Homo sapiens: one gene and its partners. The protein of the gene in region 2 purifies or fractionates together with the protein of the main gene of each other region. This does not show direct contact. Each region holds a gene or a part of one and is shown on either strand. Other genes may lie near its edges.

Region 1 (7,000 bases), on a different chromosome or scaffold from region 2:
GGTTATTTTCAGAAACTCACTAAGAAAGGAACAAAATTTAGTGAAGACGTTGCATACTTAGGCTACTGCGTATAAAAATAGCAATTAAGAGCAAAGACTTTGGAGTTATCCAGACCCAAGTTATACCAACTCAGAGTCCAATAATATAATTATCAATGTCTAGGTTGTTGTCTACTTCTATATAAAATCTATTTTATGCCTGTAATCCTAGCACTTTGGGAGGCTGAGGTGGGCAGATTGCCTGAGCTCAGGAGTTTGAGACCAGCTGGAGCAACATGGGAAACCTCATCTCTGCTAAAAATACAAAAAATTAGCTGGGCATGGTGGCATGTGCCTGTAACCCCAGCTACTCAGAAGGCTGAGGCAGGAGAACCGCTTGAACCCGGGAGGCAGAGGTTGCAGTGGGCCAAGATCACACCACTGCACTCCAGCCTGGGTGACAAAGTGAGACTCTGTCTAAAACAAAAAACAAAAATAAAACCCCAACTCATATTAGAGTTAATTTTTTCCTCTGTCCTTTTAGCTTGTTTTTCTAAAGGATGGTTAAGTCGTCTTATTCAGACAAAAATTGCATTTCATATATGGGATTTTTTTTTCTTTTCTAATACCGTTCAGGATTGGGGCAAGAGGCAATGTTAAATAAAAACAGAAATTTGAGTTTTGGGAGAGATCAGATCTTTAAATAAATAGAAACAGTGACATTTAGTACATGTGAATCAATTTGGTAAATACTGAATGAAGAGACGAGTTACTGTTGAGTGGGATTTGTCATCTTAATTTTCAGCACCTTGAGTAAATAAGCCTTGAATTAAATTACTTCATGAGAGTTTTTCTCAAGATGAGAAAAACTTGCTTTACTTTGGGCTGCTGACTTGCTGACTTACTATATTGATTTAGCACTTGAGATGTAATCAGAAGAGATGATTTTAGTGAACTCATTTTTGGCCTGGGGTGTATGTTGCAGATGTGCGTAGGTTGTTGTCTTTTTCTATTTGTCCTGATCTCTGGTTTCATAGTCTCTGAACTGGTTGCTTGTTCTACCAACACTGTTTTGCATGGAATACTTTGACTGGAGGTCAAATGGCGACACGTTTAATTGACAACACTTCATTGAGGATACAACTCTTTCTGTGTCTTGATGGTTAGTGACTAAAGCTGATCTAATCAAGCCTATGTAGTGCCAATTAACAATGCCCAATTAGGTATTCTCTCTGGCTTTCAAGTTTTGCTGCTGGAAAGCTCAGAGAGGAAAGCATCTCTTCAGGATGACAAGGATATGAAAAATGATAATGGCAATGGAATGCCAGTTATGTAAAGAATTTGAAGTGATCACAATTAAAAATTTGAGTAGACAGCAAAAAGTATTTTTTCCACTTGATGTCTTCCAAAGAAAAACAGGAAATGTCTTCCTGTGTGCCATTTTTTCTTAATTGCTGAAAATTATTATAATGTTGATAGCTATCATATTTTGACTTTAAAAAAATGTGCCAGGCACTTTACTGTATTTCATTTATTCTTCACATCATCCTTACACTGTAGACTTCTTTAATATGACTACTTTACAGAAGGGCATGCTACTTTTACCTTTCTGAATCTCAGTTGTTTCTTCTCTACAAAGAAAGTGATAGGTAGAGTTGGAGATTTTAACCAGGTCTGTTTAACTCCAATATCCTTGCTCTTACTACTGTTCTTGCAGTAAGCTAAATATGCAATGTATTCATTTTACTTGGTTGCTTTCCTTGTGAGTTTCTGACAATTAATTTGTCTTCTACTCAGCTTGATGGAAACCAGTTTATTATAAGACAGGGCTTGACCAATGTTGTGATGGTTCGTATCCAGGGCAGAAATTATTGCCAGAGGGTACACAGGACAGCCTTCTAAGAAAAAACTGTGTTTGCTTCTGAGAAGAAGGTGGGCTTCAGCTTTCTGAGTGTAAGCAAATATAGGAGACAAGAAGACTAACCAATGAAGGCAGTGAAGGAGCCTCAATGGTGTGACATCAGCTGGCTGAATGCCTTCTGTAAAATACTTCTGTAGCTCCCCATTGCCTTGATGATAAAACCTTCCACAGCTCTTTCCGTTTGAACCTTTACCTGCTTGCCTGTGGGTAACAATGATGATGACAGTGACAGTAATAGCTGAAATAACCAAACTTAATGGAGCGCTTGTTAGTTTTTTGGTTTAGCCATCTCTGTAATGATTCCTTTCATTCTTTACAATATACAAAGGTAATAAATGAACTAACTGGTCGAGGCAATAGTTTTTAATTAATCACAAGTTTTCAGGCTCTGGGATAAAGCATTCATGTGTGTTCATTTAATTTTTAAAACAACCCTTGTCATCATTTCACAGTTGAATAAACCGAGTTTCAGAGACATTAAGTAACTTGCCTAATGTCACACAGCTGGGTGAGGGATGAAGGCCAGATTGAAACCTGGGTTTGCAGATTCTAAATCTGGTATACTGAACCAGAATACTCTCATGGCCTTATAGGGGATCAGCTGGGTTCTGTGATTTTAAATAAAGATGACTCACAAACAGAGGATATCAGCTGTGGTCTGCAGTTGTGTGCTATTTGGTTTATTAAACATATTTGATTTGGAGGCAGTTTTTTGTTTGTTGTTGTTTTGTTTTGTTTTGGTGGTTGGGGAGGGGAGCTACCCTGTTTGCTAAAGGCCCCATTTGTCACTGGGCTACTTCATGCACCCAACTTCCCTGCAAGGGAAGATATTTGTGTTAATAACTCTCGTCTAAAAAGTCAAGATTAGAGAGTTCTTTCATTCGTGGAGTGTGATGAGAAACAAAGATTCCACAACCACTTTCCCCCAGGATATTTTGTTACCTTGCCAATGATTTTAAAATATTGCTTGCTTTTAGTTTTAATCCATTTCCTCCTCCCTTTCCCAACCCTATCAGTATATAGAACAACTGCTCAGAAAACTGTTGGTTTCCAATAATGCAGTTATTAACTATGACCTTTGTGTCTTGTCTTTAAACCTTCCCCCGCATAATCCAGTCTTCCCTTTGACATCTCTGATGGTTAGCTCCTCTTACTGGCCAACTGGTGCCTCTGCCACATGGGAGTGCCATTACACAGTAAAATTAATACCTCCTTCCAGGATTTATTTAGCTTCTTCTGACACACTCAAAAGAGCAAGGGAACACATGTCTTGCTTTCCCTTGGGAAGGTCAAGTATTAGATGATTAAACTGGTAGGAAGCATTTGAATATCCTCAGTAAACAAGCTTTGTATTTAGGCTCATAGATGTTTTTTTGAAGTTCTTCATTGCATTTATTTTCAAAGTTAGTTTGAGAGAGCTTTTACCAGTTACTTGGAAGTTATGTGCCATTATTGCTTTCCTTATTGCTTAAAAAACAAAAAAAGAATTTAAAATCAGCTACCAACTCTGGATTTTTCTTTTTCAGATGCAAAAGAAATTGTTTTAAAAGCCCAGATCTTAGCTGGAGGAAGAGGAAAAGGTGTCTTCAATAGTGGTTTGAAAGGAGGTGTTCATTTAACAAAAGAGTAAGTCTGGAGGTTGTTATTCCTTGTCTTTTGGCCAAGCAGTTATGGAAGATCTTGCTCAAGATTGAAAGGCACACTGAGGTTGGTTGTGGTGGGGTAGGAGCGGGCCAAAGCAACTAGAAGAAACTGAAATCATAGGTAGAGGGCTCTGGCAGTGCCCTAGTTTTCCTTCTGCCCCCACAAAATGATTTTTCTTACTAATTGGTGAAAACTTGACAGTCCTTCTGTCCTAAACAATCAATGATTCATCATAAATGTTGGAAATGATACCACTTCCAACTGAAATGCTACTTCCATAATGTCACTCCTCTATTCAAGGACCTGAAGGGACTCCCCATTACCAGTGGCATCTGGGGTACCTCCCCTCTGATAGTCCAAGCCTTCCTTTATTTGAGCCTGTCTTTTCAACTTCATCTCCTGCATCTCCTAGCACTGAACACTTTCCTCTCCTCCCTGTTCCTGTCACACACCTTTTTACTATTTACTTTGATCTTTACCCTCTTCCTTTCCCTCTCATTGTTCAATATCTCCCCAGTTTTCCACTGTCGGATCTTCAGTCAACCCTTATCTGAATCTGGTGTGCATTTCAGCATTCTCTCTTTACTATGACTGTAACTTTTTTGGGTGAAGAGGTCACAAAGCATCTTTTGTTTCATTTATTCATTCATGAACTCACTTTTATTTTGCTCTCAGTGAGCCTCTAGTACAGTGCTAAACACGCAGCACATAAGCAGAAAGACTCATGGATTTTGTGAGGGTGAAGGTGAACCCTTTGCAGTGTAGACATGAGGCTCTGTGTAAGGACTCTCATTTAAATGATTTTCAACAAACATTCATTTTCTGCTTGTTTTCTCTTTCTCTTAGCCCTAATGTTGTGGGACAGCTGGCTAAACAGATGATTGGGTACAATCTAGCGACAAAACAAACTCCAAAAGAAGGTGTGAAAGTTAACAAGGTAATATGGATACTTTGGGTCATTTTCTATATATGTGTTAAAAAATAGAAAAGAAAACCATCCTTCAGTTTTTGACAGAATCTAATGAAGTACTGCTCTTTGGCAGTGTGCCATTTTATTTTTTAAAGCTCATCTAATCTGTTTAGTAAGTAGTATGTCTTGGAGGAGAAATAAAAAGGGCTCTATGATAGTAATATTATTTATTATCATTAGCATTTAGCAAAAAGTGGGTGAGGGTGAGTGACCGAGCAATGGCTTTCCCTCTGAGAACACAGATGCATTCTATTTAGTTGAGAAGCGCTTGCTGTGACAGCCTTATACTCAGTGAGGGACATTCGCTGCTCCCACACAGTGGCCCTCAACCCCAGGCGTGTCTGTCAGAATTACCTATTGTGGTTGTTTTTCTAAATGCCCCATTCCTTATTTTAGGATGACTGTAATTTTGAGCCATTTTTATTGCTGGGGGTATATTGCATTAGGAAGGTCAGCTGAAGTACCCAAGTATGTATAGCATGTGGACACACACCCCTCATCCACACATAGAAAATAAAGCCCAGAGGAAAGTGGCCTGCCTCAGTCATGAAATTGTGAGTGGTAGAGCTGAGACCAGAACCTAACTCTCCCTCCTGCCAATCTACCTTTCACCATCCCTTTTGTGTATCCAGACACTAGAACTAGCTACCTGGGTTGCAGAATCCAGTGCCAAATAAAAAGGCAGGGACCCGTGTTAAAATTTCAAGACAGCTATAGCTAAACATTAAATCCCTTTACAACTACACAGATCACATGTGTCAGCCCTGAAAAGCATCCATGGTTAGAAGATCCTGTCCTAACAGCGAATTAGGGTCCTGCATTTTGGGGTGGCAGCTGTCTGCTCTGTTGACATAGCGTCACAGATCAGTGGTCTCTACCAATGCACCATGCTGCAGGACACTGCAGTGGTGACATCCTGTTTTTACTTTTCAGGGAGAGTTTTGTGGAAAACTCTTAAGTTGTTGTATTTATCAGTATTTAGTTCCATTTTCTTTTGTTAATTTTTGTGGGTACATAGTAGGTGTATATATTTATAAGGTACATGAGATGTTTTGATATAGGCATACAATGTGTAATAATCCCGTTACAGTCCTTTTTCTTGCTATGTAGCAATCTATGATATGGATGTACCTACCACAGTTTGTTTAACCATCATCTGTTGAAAGACATCTGGGTTGGTTCGTTTTTGGCTATTACAAATAAAGCCACTCTAGACATTCATGAACAGGTTTTTGGTATAAATATAAATCTTCATTTTGGGGGATAATTGTTGGGTTATGTGGAAGTTGTATAATTAGTTTTTTTAAGAAACTGATGAATGTTTTCCAGCATGGCTGTTCCATTTTACATTGCCATCAGCAATGTGTAAGTGGTCAGGGTTCTCCACATTCTAGCCCGCATTTGGTGGTGGTGGTATTATTTTAGCCATTCTTATGGGTGTGTAGTGATATTTCATTGTGATTTTAATTTGCATTTCCCTAATGGCTAAAGATGTTGAACATCTTTTCATGTGCTTATTTGCCATCTGTAGATTGTGGTTGGTGAATTGTCTGTTCATGGATGCTATGGTCTGAATGCTCCCTCCAAAATGCATGTTGAAATTTAATCCCCATTGTGGTTTGCATTAAGAGGCAGAGCCTTTTGGGAAGTGATTAGTCATGAAGGCTCTGCCCTCATGAATGGATTAGTGCAGGCTTGTCCAACCCACGGCCCACAGGCCACAGGCATCCCAGGATGGCTTTGAAAGTGGCCCAAGACAAATTTGTAACCTTTCTAAACATTATGAGATTTTTTTTGCAATTTTAGTTTCTTAGCTCAGCTATTGTTAGTGTTAGTGTATTTTATGTGCGGCCCAAGACAATCCTTCTTATGCCATTGTGGCCCAGGGAAGCCAAAATATTGGACATCCCTGGTAGTGCTTTATAAAAGGGCTGAAGGGAACTAGCTTAGACCTGTTTTGCATTTCCACTTTCTGCCATGTGAGGATGAAGCAAGAAAGGCCATATCACTAAATGGCGGTGCACTGATCTTGGACTTCCCAGCCTCCAGAACTGTGAAACAATATATTTTTGTCCTTTATAAATGACCAAATCTCAGGTATTTTGTAACAGCAGCATGAAGAGACAAAGCAAATTTCTTTTGGCCATTTTCTAATTAGATTATGTTTTTACTATTGAGTTTTGAGTTATTCTAGGTACTAGTCCACTGTTGGATATGTGCTTTGTAAGTATTATCTGTTACACTATATAACGTATATATTCATTTTTTCAACAGGGTCATTTGCAGGGCAAAAGTGTTTAATTTTGATGAAGTCCAATACGTCAATATTTCCTTTATGGATTATACCTTTTTAGTATCAGGTCTAAGTCCTCTTTACGTTGCCCTACATAATAAAAATTTTCTCATGTTTTTTTCTAGATGTTTTATAGTTTTATGTTTTATATTTAGGTTTGTGATCCATTTTGAGTTGACTTTTGAATAAGTTG
Region 2 (7,105 bases):
TTTTTGAGACAGAGTCTCACTCTGTCAAGGTTCACTGCAGCCTTGACCTCCCTGGGCTAGATGATCCTCCTAGCTCAGCCTTCTGAGTAGCTGGGACTACAGGCGCATGCTACCACACCCAGCTAATGTTTTAAACTTTTTGGAGAGACCGGTTTCCCTACATTGCCCCTGGCTGGTCTTGAACTCCTGGGCTCAAGTAATCTGCCCGCCTTGGCCTCCTAAAGAGCTGGGATTACGGGCATGAGCCACCATGCTCAGCCCTGACTTATTTCTTAAAGTAAAATTAAAGAGGGCCAAGACTCACTGTGGCTTTGATTCACTAATCTCTGATCTCTCCCAGTTCCCTTATAGGGACATAATCAACTTTATAGGCAACACATCACTTGGGGTACACTGTCGGAAAAAAAAAATAAAACTAATTCTGCCTTTTACCAGTTCTGCTTCCAGTGCTTTTATTTTGCTTTCATATGCAGCTTTTTGAGAAGAAAGCTCTTGCTGAGCCATTTCTTTTGCAATCTGGATTCCTTGCATCATTTCTTCCTTTGCCTTCAACTGAGCCTCTTTTATTTCTGCTTCAAGTCTACAATGTAGCAAGATGTTTATAGGGTACATGTTAAGAATTCTTTATACATCATAATAGTTCTTAATCCTACTGAAAAGTTTTCCATTGAATGAAAGTTTCAATCTTAAAACTTGATTTCTGACATTCTATCAACAGTGTTTTTAAAATTTTCACTGGCTCTACAATTGTTTACACTCAAAATTTAAACACGCAGGACGAAAAATTGCTTATTTCTAACTTAGTTACTATTGCAGATGCCTGACATTTAAATAAAATCAGTGCTTTAGTAACTACATTATACAGAAATTTCCATTCCCAATTTTACTGAAAAAAAGAATAAGAGTATAAAAAAGAAGGTTAGTGGATATCACAGCTAGGGAGAGAGGAGAATGGCTATTGTTTAACAAATACAGAGTTTCAGTTTGGAATAATAAAACATTTCTGGAGATGGATGATGGTGATGGTTGCACAACAACGTGAAGGCACTAGGGTGGGCACAGTGACTCACGCCTGTAATCCCAGCACTTTGGGAGGCCAAGGCAGGTGGACTGCTTGAGCTCAGGAGTTCGAGACCAGCCTGGGCAACATGGTGAAACCCCATCTCTACAAAAAAATTCAAAAATTAGCCAGGCGTGGTGGTGTGCGCCTATAGTCTCACATGCTCGGGAGGCTAAGGTGGGAGGATGGCTTGAGGCCAGGAGGTGGAAGTTGCAATGAACCCAGATCATGCCAACTGTACTCCAGCCTAGACGACAGAGCCAGACTCCATCTCAAAAAAAAACCAAAAAACAAACAAAAAAAAAACCACAAAACAATGTGAAGGTACTTAATGCCTTTGGACTATACAATTAAAAATGGCTAACATGGTAAATTTTGTGCTATTTATATTGTATTCAATTAAAAAAATTCTTTTTAAAGGGCAAAAGCAGGTTGAGGCTTCTTAAAAGGTGACAAAGCAGTTAGTCTAGCCTATAACCAGTTCTTGATTCCTCCTCCTTTCATCCTCTTTAGTCACCAGGCCTTGTCAATCTTATCTCCTTTATGTTTCCTTCCTACCTAATCACACTATATTTACCTTACTTCAATAGTCTCTTAGCTGCATTTGCAGGTTTTAAGCTTGCTCTATCTCTAATGCATTCTCCAGATTTGAGTGCCAGTGATCTCTCTAAAAATGTAATTCTGATTATGAGTGTCTCACGTCTGCTCAAAATTCTTTAATGTTTCCCTTATCCTTTAAGATAAAGTCCAAACTCTTTAGCATTTTATTTGTATATACTTTACCATTTAGCTTACAAGGATACTACTTATGCCAGAAATCCTACGATACTGCATGAACTAAAACTGGGGCACAAGAAGAAAAGAAAAACAAAAGTACACTCTCCCAGTCTTCCTCTGGCTAAATTCTAATCGTCTATTGGGATTCTCCTCTATGGGACGTCTTCTCATCTTCTAGAAACCTTCCCTGATAACCGGTCAGGGCCAGGTGTCACCCCGTGAGCTTCCACACCACACAGTTCGGGACTCTTGTCAGAGAACTGTGTCATAGCACTGTTATAACTGTCAGCCCCTCGAGATGATGAATTCTTTCAGCACATGAGCTAAATTTCAATCCTTATTCTTTATATCTCCAGCATTTGGTACAGTGACAGACACATAATAGATGGTCAATATATATTTGGTGAACTAATGAATGTACTAAGAGAAAAAATTATATCACTAGAAACCAGCACCCAAAGAGTTAATTACTAGAGACTGGCACAATGTGATTAACTCTGTTGTAGATCTCTCTCATACACTTACTATTTCATATCAACAGCATACTTACTGTGATCTCTGTGCCATGAGCAACTCATTTTTTGCAAATTCAAAGTCTTTTGGACCCTCACTTATAGGAGTATCTCTTCCAGATGGCCTTTTTCCTTTCTGGACTTCTACTGGATGATTAAATCTAAAATAATGATCTCCACCAAGAATCACTCGATCACCCTAAAGCACACAAAAAAATGTACTACTTGAGGTGAGTCTCAACCAAAAAATTAAATGAGAAAATTTATTTTGCCCAACAATTCAATATAGTCTAGTATTAATGATAAACATAAACATCATAGCAACTAACATTTATTACTTTTTTTTTCTTTTGGCACAGAGTCTCACTATGTCACCCAGGCTGGAGTGCAATGGCACAATCTCAGCTCACTGCAACCTCGGCCTCACGGGTTCAAGCAATTCTCCTGCCTCAGCCTCCCGAGCTGCTGGGATTACAGGCGTGTGCCACCACACCCAGCTAATTTTTGCATTTTTAGTAGAGATGGGGTTTCACCATGTTGGCTAGGCTGGTCTCGAACTCCTGACCTCATGATCCACCCACCTTGGCCTCCCAACGTTTATTACTTTGTATATACCAAACACTGCATTAAGCACATTACACATATAGTCATATGTCTCTTAACAACAGGGATATGTTCTGAGAAGTACACTGTTAGGTGATTTCATAGTTGTGTGAATATCATGGAATGTACTTACACAAACCTGGATGGTATAGCCTACTACACACTTAGGCTATATGGCATAGCCTATTGCTCCTAGGTTACAAACCTGTACAGCATGTTACTGTACTGAATACCATAGGCAACTATAACACAATGGTAAATAATTGTATATCTAAACAGAAAAAAATACAGTAAAAATACAGTATTATAATCTTATGGGACCACTGTTACATATGTGGTCCCTCATTGCCCAAAACATCATTATGAAGTGCAAGACTTTATGTTATCTCATTTACGATTCACAACAACTCAGTGAGATACATATAATCATCCCAATTTTAGGAATGAGGAAACTAAACAGCACAAAGCTTAATAATAACAAGAGACATTCATTGAGAGCTTACTATTTGCAGATACTATTCTAAGAACTATATACACAAATTATTATTTCAGTTAATCCTTCACTATCTCTGAAAGGCAGGATATATAGAGTCACAATAGGTCTGGGTTTGCCTGTAACACACTGCTGATGTTTGTTCTCTTGATGTAATTATTAATAATGATCTCAAAAGTGTCCTGACTTGGGTGACATTGTTTAATCATCTAGTTAAATAACTTGCCAGACGTCACAGAGCAAATGGCAAAGCCAGGATTTCAACCCTGTCTGTCTGATTCTAAAGCCTAGCTCTTTATAGGACACATAATGATGCTATTAGTGGTCAGCTCTTCAGGTACTGATTCATATAAATGTAACTTTTGTCTTTGCACAAGAAAGCAATTAATAGGAAAAAGAATTTTTGAAATGAAAAAGTCCTTAATCTGCTTCAACACCCTTATCTTATAGAGAAAACCAGAACTCAAAGAAATTAAATGACTTATCCAAAGTCGAACAGTTTCTTATATTATAGCACCCATCCACTTACATGACGTAATACTGTGATTTCCAAAATATGTTTTCCATTTACATATGTCTTTGCTTCCCCAACTGGGATAATACTCACTGTCCCACCAAAATTTTTGATAGTACTGTTAAAATAAGAAGCACATAGTTAACAATTATAGAACACACTAAAAAGTAAGAAAAAGGCAATATGGGATAATTCTGCTTGGGCTATTCCTTTGGTGTTAAGATTCATACCAATATGTAACAATAATTTAAAATTATTTTATTTTCCTCCAACTAGTTTTTTTTTTTTTTTTTTTTTGAGACGGAGTCTTGCTCTGTCGCCCAGGCTGGAGTGTAGTGATACAATCTCAGCTCACTGCAAGCTCCACCTCCTGGGTTCAAGCAATTCTCCTGCCTCAGCTGCCTGAGTAGCTAGGATTACAGGCACCCACCACCATGCCCTGCCCAGCTAATGTTTGCATTTTAGTAGAGATGGGGTTTTGCCATGTTCGCCAGGCTGGTCTCTAATTCCTGACCTCAAGTGATCCACCTGCCTCGGCCTCCCAAAATGCTGGGATTACAGGCATGAGCCACTGCATCGAGCCTCCAATTAGATTTTGAAGTTTGGTGAAAAAAGCCTGGCCTCTAGCAATCCGATCCACCTGTGGTGGGAACATTCTTCATTGGGTGTATTTTTATTATAACTTCTTTGAAAACAAAAACCTTCCCCCAAAAATTCAAAAAAAAAAAAAAAAAAAAAAAAACTAGCAAAAAACATTAACATACTGCCAGTGATTTCTTATGAATAAAACAGTTTTAAGTGTTTTTTTAATTTTCTAAGCTTCTGGTTTTACATATGAGCTTTAATAACAGAAAGAACAAATATTTCTCCCCTTTTGAAAAGTAGGGTACTACAGAGGAAGGAAAAACATGGAGATCAAAGTGTACCCCTTAAGACATCTAATTTACTGGATGATAAGGTGATACTGTGGAAAATCAGCTATAAGTGCTACATATTTGAGTCTTTTTATTCAGAGAATAGGAAAGAAACTCCAAAGTCCAATTCATCTTTGGATTAACGGGATAGAAAGAAAAACTGCAACAAAAGCTGAGTCCTAACCAAAGATCTTTTTAGCTGTGGATTAGGCTCCAAGATCTGTGATTAGAGAATAATAGTTTAATTAAAGCATCTAGAGAAAAGTACATGGAAACAATAGTTCACCCTTAGGCACTACATCCCTCCTACCAGTCTAGTGTCTTATCCAGGTGAAGGTTTATACAATGTGTACTTGTTCTGATCCCTTTCCTCTCCTAATTCTATCTACTCTGCTCTCAAAATTCCATGGCCTACCATTCTGGACGCCCCACAATCTGGCTTCAACCACCAACCTCCCTCATCTGCCACTATTTTCCCATAAGAACCCCATTTCACACTTAATCAACCATATGAATACTCTGAATTTGCCTTAATGTCAGCTTTCCTCCTTTCCTTGAGTCATTCCTTCCAGATAGGACATCCTCTCCCTTCTTGCAACCATTCTTGAAGGCCCAATTTAGAGTCCTCTAAGAAGCTGTTCTTTAGGGTTTAAGTTAGAAGTCAACTCTTCCTTCTCTTCACTTCTAAGCAGTAAGTATGCAGTACTCATAACACTTAATATGCATTAATAGATACTGAAGTTCTTTTTTTCTCTTTCACATGACCAGCCTCAGCCATGAAGTTCTTTTATTCATTAAGCCTCCAAGAGCCAGTTATGTGTCAGCAATGAAGACAGACATGAAATCAGCTTTCATAAAGTTCATGGTCTAGTGAACAAGATAAACTGAGGAAGGTACGAAAAATGGAAGTAGAGAGTTAGAGGCAAGCAAGAGGCTTCCAAGTTCCTTACTGGACTCTTAACTCTTTGGGAGCATGTTCTGTATCTTTGCCACAGATGTTAATAATACTGTATTTATTTGTTAAAGAAAATAATTAATTAATAAAAGAGCAAAAGAACCTAAAGAACAAAAGGATATGCCCTAACAGATATAAAGATTCATGGCCAGGTGCAGTGGCTCACGTCTGTAATCCCAGTACTTTGGGAGGCCAAGGTGGGTGGATCACCTGAGGTCAGGAGTTCAAGACGAGCCTGGCCAACATGATGAAATCGTCTCTACTAAAAATACAAAAAACTAGCTGGGCATGGTGGCTGCTACTCAGGAGGCTGAGGCACGAGAATCGCTTGAACCCAGAAGGTGGAGGTTACGGTGAGCCAAGATCACACTACTGCACTCCAGCCTGGGTGATAGAGTGAGACTCCATCTCCAAAAAAAAAAAAAAAAAAAAAGATATAAAGATTCATTACAGGCCGGTCGTGGTAGCTCACACCTGTAATCCCAGCACTTTGGGAGGTCAAGGTGGGCGGATCACCTGAGGTGGGAGTTTGAGACCAGCCTGGCCAACATGGTGAAACCCCATCTCTACTAAAAATACAACAATTAGCCAGGCGTGGTAACAGACATCTGCAATCCCAGCTACTCAGGAGGCTGAAGCAGGAGAATTGCTCGACTCCAGGAGGTTGCAGTGAGCTGAGATGGTGCCACTACACTCCAGCCTGGGCAACAGAGCAAAACTCTGAAATCAAAAAATAAATAAATAAAGATTCATTACAAAGCTCAAGTAATTACGACCATGGGGTATTAGTAGGAAGAAACAGATTCTGATATTTTTAGAAATTTTTTGTAGGAGCACTACAGATTCCAAAAGAAGCAATAAACTATTTAATATTTGGTACTGGGAGAAATGGCTATTCATGTGGAAAATAAATGAATTTAGATCCCTAATTCACACCAAATAAAAAATTCCAGACATTCAATAACTTAAATGTGAAAGCAAAACTTCAAAACATCTAGAAGAAAATTTAGAACATCTCTATGACCTCAATGTACAACAGTCTTTTTTTTTTTTTTTTTTTTTGAGTTAGAGTCTCACTCTATTGCCTAGGGTGGAGTATAGCAGAGTCATCTTGGCTCACTGTAGCTTCCACCTCCCAGGTTCAAGTGATTCTTATGCCTCAGCCTCCCAAGTAGCTGAGACTATAGGTGCCCACCACCATGCCGGGCTAATTTTTGTATTTTCAGTAGAGATGAGGTTTCACCATGTTGGCCAGGCTGATGTTGAACTCCTGGTCT
Region 3 (7,327 bases), on a different chromosome or scaffold from region 2:
AAATCAACTCATTCTCTGTCAAAGAGTTCTTCCAAAATGCCAAGTCTACAAGAAGGGATGTGTGGCAAACCATCTGCATGGGGCTCTCCCACACCAGCCCACTCTCAGGCCCACAGCCTTTACCCTTTTGCTCAGGTGCACTTCAGAAGTGCAGGGATATTGAATGCCTGCTCAAGGTAGACCAAGGAGCCTTGATGGATGTCAGCTAGCTTTTTGTACTGCACGTGATGACCTCCAGCACTTGCTGCCAATGCCTTAGCTTTGTCAAGTGCTTCTGGACCAGTGCATGTCTCCAATGTTATTCATTTCTTAGTTCGGAGACATCGACATCCTCATTGATAACTTGCTCTGGTTTCTGGACAGATAATTGCAATCTTTTTTGTAGGAAAGAAATATTCTGTCTTGCAATATCCAGAAACTTGTGTATACACCGATCAACACCAGTTCCAATTTCTTCCTGATTGCTGCCATTGACATAGTCCTGACTTAACGGAGAGGCAAAGCAAGTCTGGAAAGATGACTCCATGTCATCCACCAAAGTACTGTTAGAAGGTCTCAGAGGCCCTGGAGCTGCTGGTAAGTAAAGGAAGCCTGGCCCCAGAGCCCCGGTGGTGGTTGGGGCCCCGATGGCTGCCCAAAGAACATACTGCCTAGCAAAGCAGCCATGCCTGGAATAATTTTTTTTTCTTATTTTTAGTAGCGATGAGGTGTCACTATGTGCCCAGGTTGGTCTTGAACTCCTAAGCTCGAGTGATCATCTCATCCCAGCCTCCCAAAGTGCTAGGATTACAAGTGTGAGCCACCACATCCGGCCTTTTCTACATAATTCTAAATATGGCTTATAGTCTTCTTCCTCCCTCTTCATATTGCCAATTTTTGTTAATATAAATTATTATTTTTAATAATTGTGTACTGTTCTTCTGTTTGGATGTAACGGAATTTAATCATATTCCTACTGACATTTATATTGTTTTCCTTTTCTTTGCTTTTTGAGACAGGGTCTCACTCTGTTGCACAGGCTGGAGTGCAGTGATACAATCTTGGCTCACTGCAGCCTTGACCTCCTGGGCTCAAGCGATCCTCCTGCCTCAGCCCTGCGATTTTCCTTCTTTAATAATCAACACTGCTGTGATAAACATCCATGTTCACCTGTCCCAATATTATTTTAACTTTTTAAAGTATTTTTCTTTTTTTCACCCCTTCTTTTCACAGGTGTTGACCAATATTACTTTAGAATATTGATGTGGATTTTGTTGTTGTTGAGAAAAGGTCTTGCTCTGTCACCCAGACTGCAGTTGCAGTGGCATGATCATGGCTCCTCCAGGGGCTCAAGTGATCCTCCCAGCTCAACCTAGCCTCCCCAGTAGCTAAGACTACAGGCGTGTACCACCATGCCTGGCTAGTTTTGTGGGTTTTTTGTTTTGTTTTGTTTTGTTTAAGAGACAGAGTCTCACTTTGTTGCCCAGGCTGGTCTTGAACTACTGACCTCACGCCATCCTCCCACTTCGGCCTCCCAAAATGCTGGGATTACAGATGGGAGCCACTGTGCCCTGCCCAGATTTATTTAAGAAACCAAGTACCATATAAATGGGAAACAAAAAGTATTATAAGAATTCAAAGGTAGGAGGGAGAGATCAGTTTGGCCCAAAATGGTCCCAAGAAAGTTATTAATACTAAAGGAAGTGATTCTTGAGATAGGTTTTCAAGAATGGGGAAGAATTCCCTAAGATGCAAACAAATGAATTTGGTAAGAAAGGAAGCTGCAGATTTTGGACATTTTATTTTGAATTAAGAATGTATTCCGAGCCAGGCACAGCGGCTCAGGCCTGTAATCCCAGCACTTTGAGAAGGTGAGCCAGAAGGATCACTTGAGTCCAGGAGTTCAAGACCAGCCTGGGCAATATAGTGAGACCCCCATCTCTACAGAAAATTAAAAAAATTACCAAGAATGGTGGCATGCGCCTGTGGTTCCAGCTACTATGAAGGCTGAGGCAGGAGGACTGCTTGAGCCCAAGAGGTGGAAGCTGCAATGAGCTATGATGGTGCCACTTAACTCGAACCTGGGCGACACAGTGAGACCCCATCTCTAAGAAAAAAACAAAAACAAGACAAAACCAAAAAAGAATGTACTCCGGTCATTGTCATTTCCTTGAGACGTTAAGATTTAAATTACTTTGGATTTTCTTAACAGAATGAACAGGAGTTGGACTGGTGGAGAGGAAAGCGCATGACGATGTAGGAGGGTCTCGGACACCAATGCATCGCCACGTCTAAGTGAAGCAGCAGCAAGCGATATTGGTGTGGGCGACGAGGGTGGACACGGAGTCTGGGGACGGCCGACTGTGGGAGATCTAGTTACAAGGCAATAAGTCCATAAGACTGGCTTTTTTGAAGACCACAGACGCTCTTTGGGACTCAGTCCAGAGCTACAAAAACGTGGGGACGAATTGCGCCTTACAACGTCTGCCCTTGGCCTTGGCAGGGGCTCCTCCCCATCCCTCGCCATTTGCCAACAGGGGCCGGCCTGGCCGGGCTCGCTCTCACCTGCGCCTGGATGCAGAGAGAGATGCAGTCGTGCGAGAGCCGGTACCTGCGCAGCAGCCGCAGGCATTTCACCAGGTGCTCCTCCCCCGCCGACAGCTCCTCCGTGTCGATGTGGTTCACCCCGAGGTGGAACTCGATGACTGCCAGCCTCACCGCTCGCTGGGCGACGGGCCCCTCGGGCTCCACCACCTCAGCCGGCAGCCCCAGGGCGTGGTCACCGGCACCCGGGCCGTCCTCGGCCTCAGGCCGCTCATCCTCGTCCTCAGGCGCAGGGCCGAGCAGCGCCTTGACCTCTTCCAGTAGCGCCCGGGCGCTGTATTTGGACTTGTATGGTTCCTTCTCCGGATTTTTATGCAGTTCCACCCGCGACAGAGCGAGCGCCGCCTGGAATTTCTCGCAGACCTCTGCCCACGGAACGTTCGCCATAGCGGCCTCTACTGCCTGGCTTTCCTCAATGTTTGCAGTCGGGACTCCCGCCTTCCTTCTGCTTTGCGACACTTTACTTACGGCTCTCGACACGTTGCGGCCGCTGTGGAATGGGAACCAATATAACCCTCCCGGAGAACCGCAATACGCTCGGCAATGACCAATGGGAAGACGCAGCAATCACCACAGCAACCATTCTCATGGAAATGAAGTTGTCAATGAGCGTGTTCCCACCTCCTTCCCCGCCCCCTGCAGCGGTGAGTTTATCTCCAGATTGACCCTGTGAGGATGGATTTATATAAATGTTTAATATCGGCTTACTTTAACGAAGCATATCGGAATATTGTTTACAAACATAGCTAGCTAACTCTACTCGCGTTGATATGAACTGAAAGGCAAAAACCTTTAGACATTAAGTGTATAGCCCAGCCTGTCACTGGATAAAACTTTTTTTAAAAAAGGCCAGGCGCAGTGGCTCATATCTGCAATCCTAACATTTTGGGATGCCAGTAACATTTTGGGATGCCCACTGGAGTGGGCAACATAGCAAGACCCATCTCTACATAATTTTTTTTAAAAAATTAGCCGGGCGTGGTGGCGCGCGACTGTAGTCCCAGCTACCATGGAGGCTGAGGCGGAAGGATGGCTTGAGCCCAAGAGGTGGAGGTTACAGTGAGCGAGACTGCCTCAGAAAAAAAGAAAACACGAGCATTAGAACAAATACCTAATGTATGCGGGGCATAAAACTTAGCTGACAGGTTGATAGGTGCAGCAAACCACCATGGCACATGTATACCTATGTAACAAACCTGCATGTTCTGCACATGTATCCCAGAACTTAAAAGTAAAATAAAAGAAAAAAAATTGAAATGTAGCCAAGAGCTGATTATTATCATTGACACATAATCTCTTGATCGAGAGCCATAAATATACAAAACACTCAGTGATAGACAAATATTTTCACTTCGACCCTGAAATACAGGTTGTAGGAATCTGTACAACTGCCCAAGGTAACAAGAGCTAAGTCCCACAGCTGTGAAAGCCGCCTCATGCCTTTTACCTTCCTAAGTTATCAAGTCAAATGGGGAGGGGTGATAGAAGATTTTAACTATTAAGCACCAGCTGTGTACAGTGCTTTGAGACATACAAAGGAGCATTGATTTTGGGAGCTCATAGACATATGGTTTGAACCTCAGACCAACCAGCTTTCTTATTGACAAGTTAACTTTTTTAAGCTTCAGGTTTCCCACAGTAAAATCTGAATGATACTACTTACCTCGACAGAATTATTCTGAAGAATAAATAAAATTAAACGTCTATCCTTTAAGTGTTAATGCTCCTAAAAAGTCCTTCCTAAACCTTATCCCTGGGAGATCTCATCCATTTCCAGGTCTATCATTAAACACGCTGCTCACTCCCACTTTGTCTCCAGGCCAGATGGCTCTCCAGAGCTCCAGACTGGAATATCCAACATCCAGCTACAACAATCACACCTGAATGTTTCAATAGCTGCTGTGTGTCAGTATGTTCAAGTCTAAATGATCTTCCTCTTCACATGCCCCTTCCTTCCCATACCAAATTTGCCACATTTGCAGTTCTACATGTCAGTGAATGGCACCACCATCCACCAGGCTGATTTCCTGCACTTTTTTTTTTTTTTTTGGTAGAGATGGAGTCTTGCCATGTTGCCCAGGCTTATCAAGCAATCCTCCCACCTCAGCCCCCTAAAGTGCTGGGATTACCAAGCCCAGCCTGTTCTGTCATTCTTTTTTTTTTTTTTTTTTTTTTTTGAGACGGAGTCTTGCTTTGTTGCCCAGGCTGGAGTGCACTGGCGTGGTCTCAGCTCACTGCAACCTCAACCTCCTGAGTAGTTGGGATTACAGGTGTGCACCACCACACCTAGCTAATTTTTGTATTTTTGGTAGAGACGGGGTTGGGGGGGCGGTTCACCATGTTGGCCATACTGGTCTCGAACTCCTGACCTGAAGTAATGTGCCCGCCTTGGCCTCCCAAAGTACTGTGATTACAGGCGTGAGCCACTGCACCAGGCCTCTTCTGTCATTAAACCTAAAACCAGATAGTACTGCTTAGTCCACCTCCTAAAGAGCTCTGTGTACATCTTTTTATCTCCATTAGTTTAGGCCACCATCATCTGATTACTTCTAACAGGCAGTCCTGCTGCCAGTTTGGCCTCCTATCAGTGCATCTCCCAGTACATTTAAAATGATTTGGGCCAGGCGCAATGGCTCACACCTGTAATCCTAGCACTTTGGGAGGCCAAGGTCGCGGGATCGATTGAGCCCAGGAGTTCAAGACCAGCCCGGGCAACATGGCAAAACCCCGTATCTACAAAAAAATAAATAAATAAATACAAAAATTTGACAGGCATGGTGGTGGATGCCTGTAGTCCCAGCTACTCAGGAGGCTGACATGGGAGATCACCTGAACCTGGCAGTTGGAGGCTGCGGTGAGCTGTGATCAAGCCGCTGCACACCAGCCTGGGTAGCAGAGTGAGACCCTGTCTCAAAAAAAAAAAAAAAAAAAAAAAATTTGTTCACCTGTTCAATATTTAGTTATCTATTATTTGCCAGCACTGTTGTAGGTGCTGGGAATTCAGCAGTAAAAAATGGATAAAAATTCACCAGCCTGGACAATATAGTGAGATCCCTGGCTCTACAAAAAACATCTTTTTTTTTGAGACAGAGTCTTGCTCTGTCACCCAGGCTGGAGTGCAGTGGCATGATCTCAGCTCACTGCAAATTCTGCCTCCCGGGTTCACGCCATTCACCTGCCTCAGCCTCCCAAGTAGCTGGGACTACAGGCGCCCGCCACCATGCCCAGCTAATTTTTCTACAAAAAACATTTTTAAAGAAATATTGGCCAGGTGTGGCGGCACATGCCTATAGTCTTAGCTAAGTGGGAGACTGAAGTAAGAGGGTCATTAGAGCCCAGGAGTTCAAGGCTGCAGTGAGCTATGATCATGCCACTGAACTCCATCCTGGGTAACAGATAGAGACCCTGTCTCAAAGAAAGACAAAAATCCATGCCCCGGTATAGGGAAAACACTAAATATATTAAATACATAAACCTCAATGCAATGACTGGAGATCCATCTCATGACAGATAATTAGAAGAGGGCGGGCATGGTGGCTCACACCTATAATCCCAGCACTTTGGGAGGCCAAGGCAGGACGATTGCTTGAGGCCAGGGGTTCACAAACAGCTTGATCAACAGAATGAGACTCCATCTCTATAAAAAATTTAAATATTAGCCAGGTTTGGTGGTACCCCCCTGTAGTCTCAGCTACTTGGGAGGCTGAGAGGGAAGATCACTTGAGCCTAGGAGTTCAAAGCTGTAGTTCTACCTTTAGAAAACGTATCCTAAGGTGACAGACGAGTATGCAAACACATATGTGAGGATATTAACTTTAGGGTTGTTTATAATGGTGAAAAATTAGAAATAACCAACATGGACATCGAGTACTGGTTAAATGTGTAGTGGCATATCCATACAAGAAAACATGTCATCAAAAATGTCCATGTAAGCCTGTACAAAATTGTGCACAACATGTTGAGGGGGGAAAAGCAATACACAAAATCAAATAATTCCAATTTTATAAATGAACATGTGGAAGACTGCTCACTAAAATATTAGATAAGGGTGACTGGTTTTTTTTCTCTTTAGATTTTTATATCTAGCTTTTATTATTTTTATAATAAATATTTCAAGCTATTTTCATTTTAGAAAACAAAAGCCACTAAAATCAAGTATTACTATCTTTATTATGGTATACAGCAGTATTTTATACATTAGCTCATTTTATAGTAAAAACATTTATGCACAACTGTAGAGAAACTGCTGCACAGATAGCTCCAACTTAAATTAGAAAATATTTTCTTTGTAGAAAATAGTAAAAATTATAACATTTACCAAGCTAACCCAACAAGTTCATTTAAACCAAAAAGTAGCTAAATACATTATACATTTATAAATACAGGTTGAATTCTGGGATCCAGGAGAAACTTTAGTCCTTTATTGAAATAGCCATGTTTTAAGTTATGTGAAGTGAAATTTCTATTAATCTTCTCTCTTACTCTTAATTTATGCCAGATTATTTTTCTTTAGGCTAAATCCATAATCCACAACAAGGTTTTAGCTGTTCTTTTCTAAAGGACGGGTACCATATCCTTTTAATCTGCTTGATAAGGTACCCATGCCTATCCAAATAATGAAATGGTTCAGTTATTATTAAAGCATGCCCAGTATTTGGGCAAAACCAGAATCTAATAAATTACACTGTCACCTAATACCCATGGCTTGATGGGAAGCCATGAGGAACAAGGGTAAAGTGATAAA

The links.
Region 1: the proteins of KIF14 (region 2) and SUCLG2 purify together in Homo sapiens (affinity purification with mass spectrometry; 2 studies listed by BioGRID). This does not show direct contact.
Region 3: the proteins of KIF14 (region 2) and KIFBP purify together in Homo sapiens (affinity purification with mass spectrometry; 4 studies listed by BioGRID and IntAct, with this or other methods). This does not show direct contact.

What each region holds. Positions count from the first base shown.
Region 1 is NC_000003.12:67,525,613-67,532,612, reverse strand, and holds part of SUCLG2 (succinate--CoA ligase [GDP-forming] subunit beta, mitochondrial isoform 2 precursor), read left to right. Parts: intron 1-3,426; coding exon 3,427-3,526; intron 3,527-4,390; coding exon 4,391-4,481; intron 4,482-7,000. UniProt on the Homo sapiens protein: GTP-specific succinyl-CoA synthetase functions in the citric acid cycle (TCA), coupling the hydrolysis of succinyl-CoA to the synthesis of GTP and thus represents the only step of substrate-level phosphorylation in the TCA.
Region 2 is NC_000001.11:200,589,693-200,596,797, forward strand, and holds part of KIF14 (kinesin-like protein KIF14), read right to left. Parts: intron 4,078-7,105; coding exon 3,975-4,077; intron 2,549-3,974; coding exon 2,388-2,548; intron 581-2,387; coding exon 433-580; intron 1-432. UniProt on the Homo sapiens protein: Microtubule motor protein that binds to microtubules with high affinity through each tubulin heterodimer and has an ATPase activity. Plays a role in many processes like cell division, cytokinesis and also in cell proliferation and apoptosis.
Region 3 is NC_000010.11:68,984,476-68,991,802, reverse strand, and holds the start of KIFBP (KIF-binding protein), read right to left. Parts: upstream 3,001-7,327; 5' UTR 2,971-3,000; coding exon 2,545-2,970; intron 676-2,544; exon of another isoform or gene 1-675. UniProt on the Homo sapiens protein: Activator of KIF1B plus-end-directed microtubule motor activity. Required for organization of axonal microtubules, and axonal outgrowth and maintenance during peripheral and central nervous system development.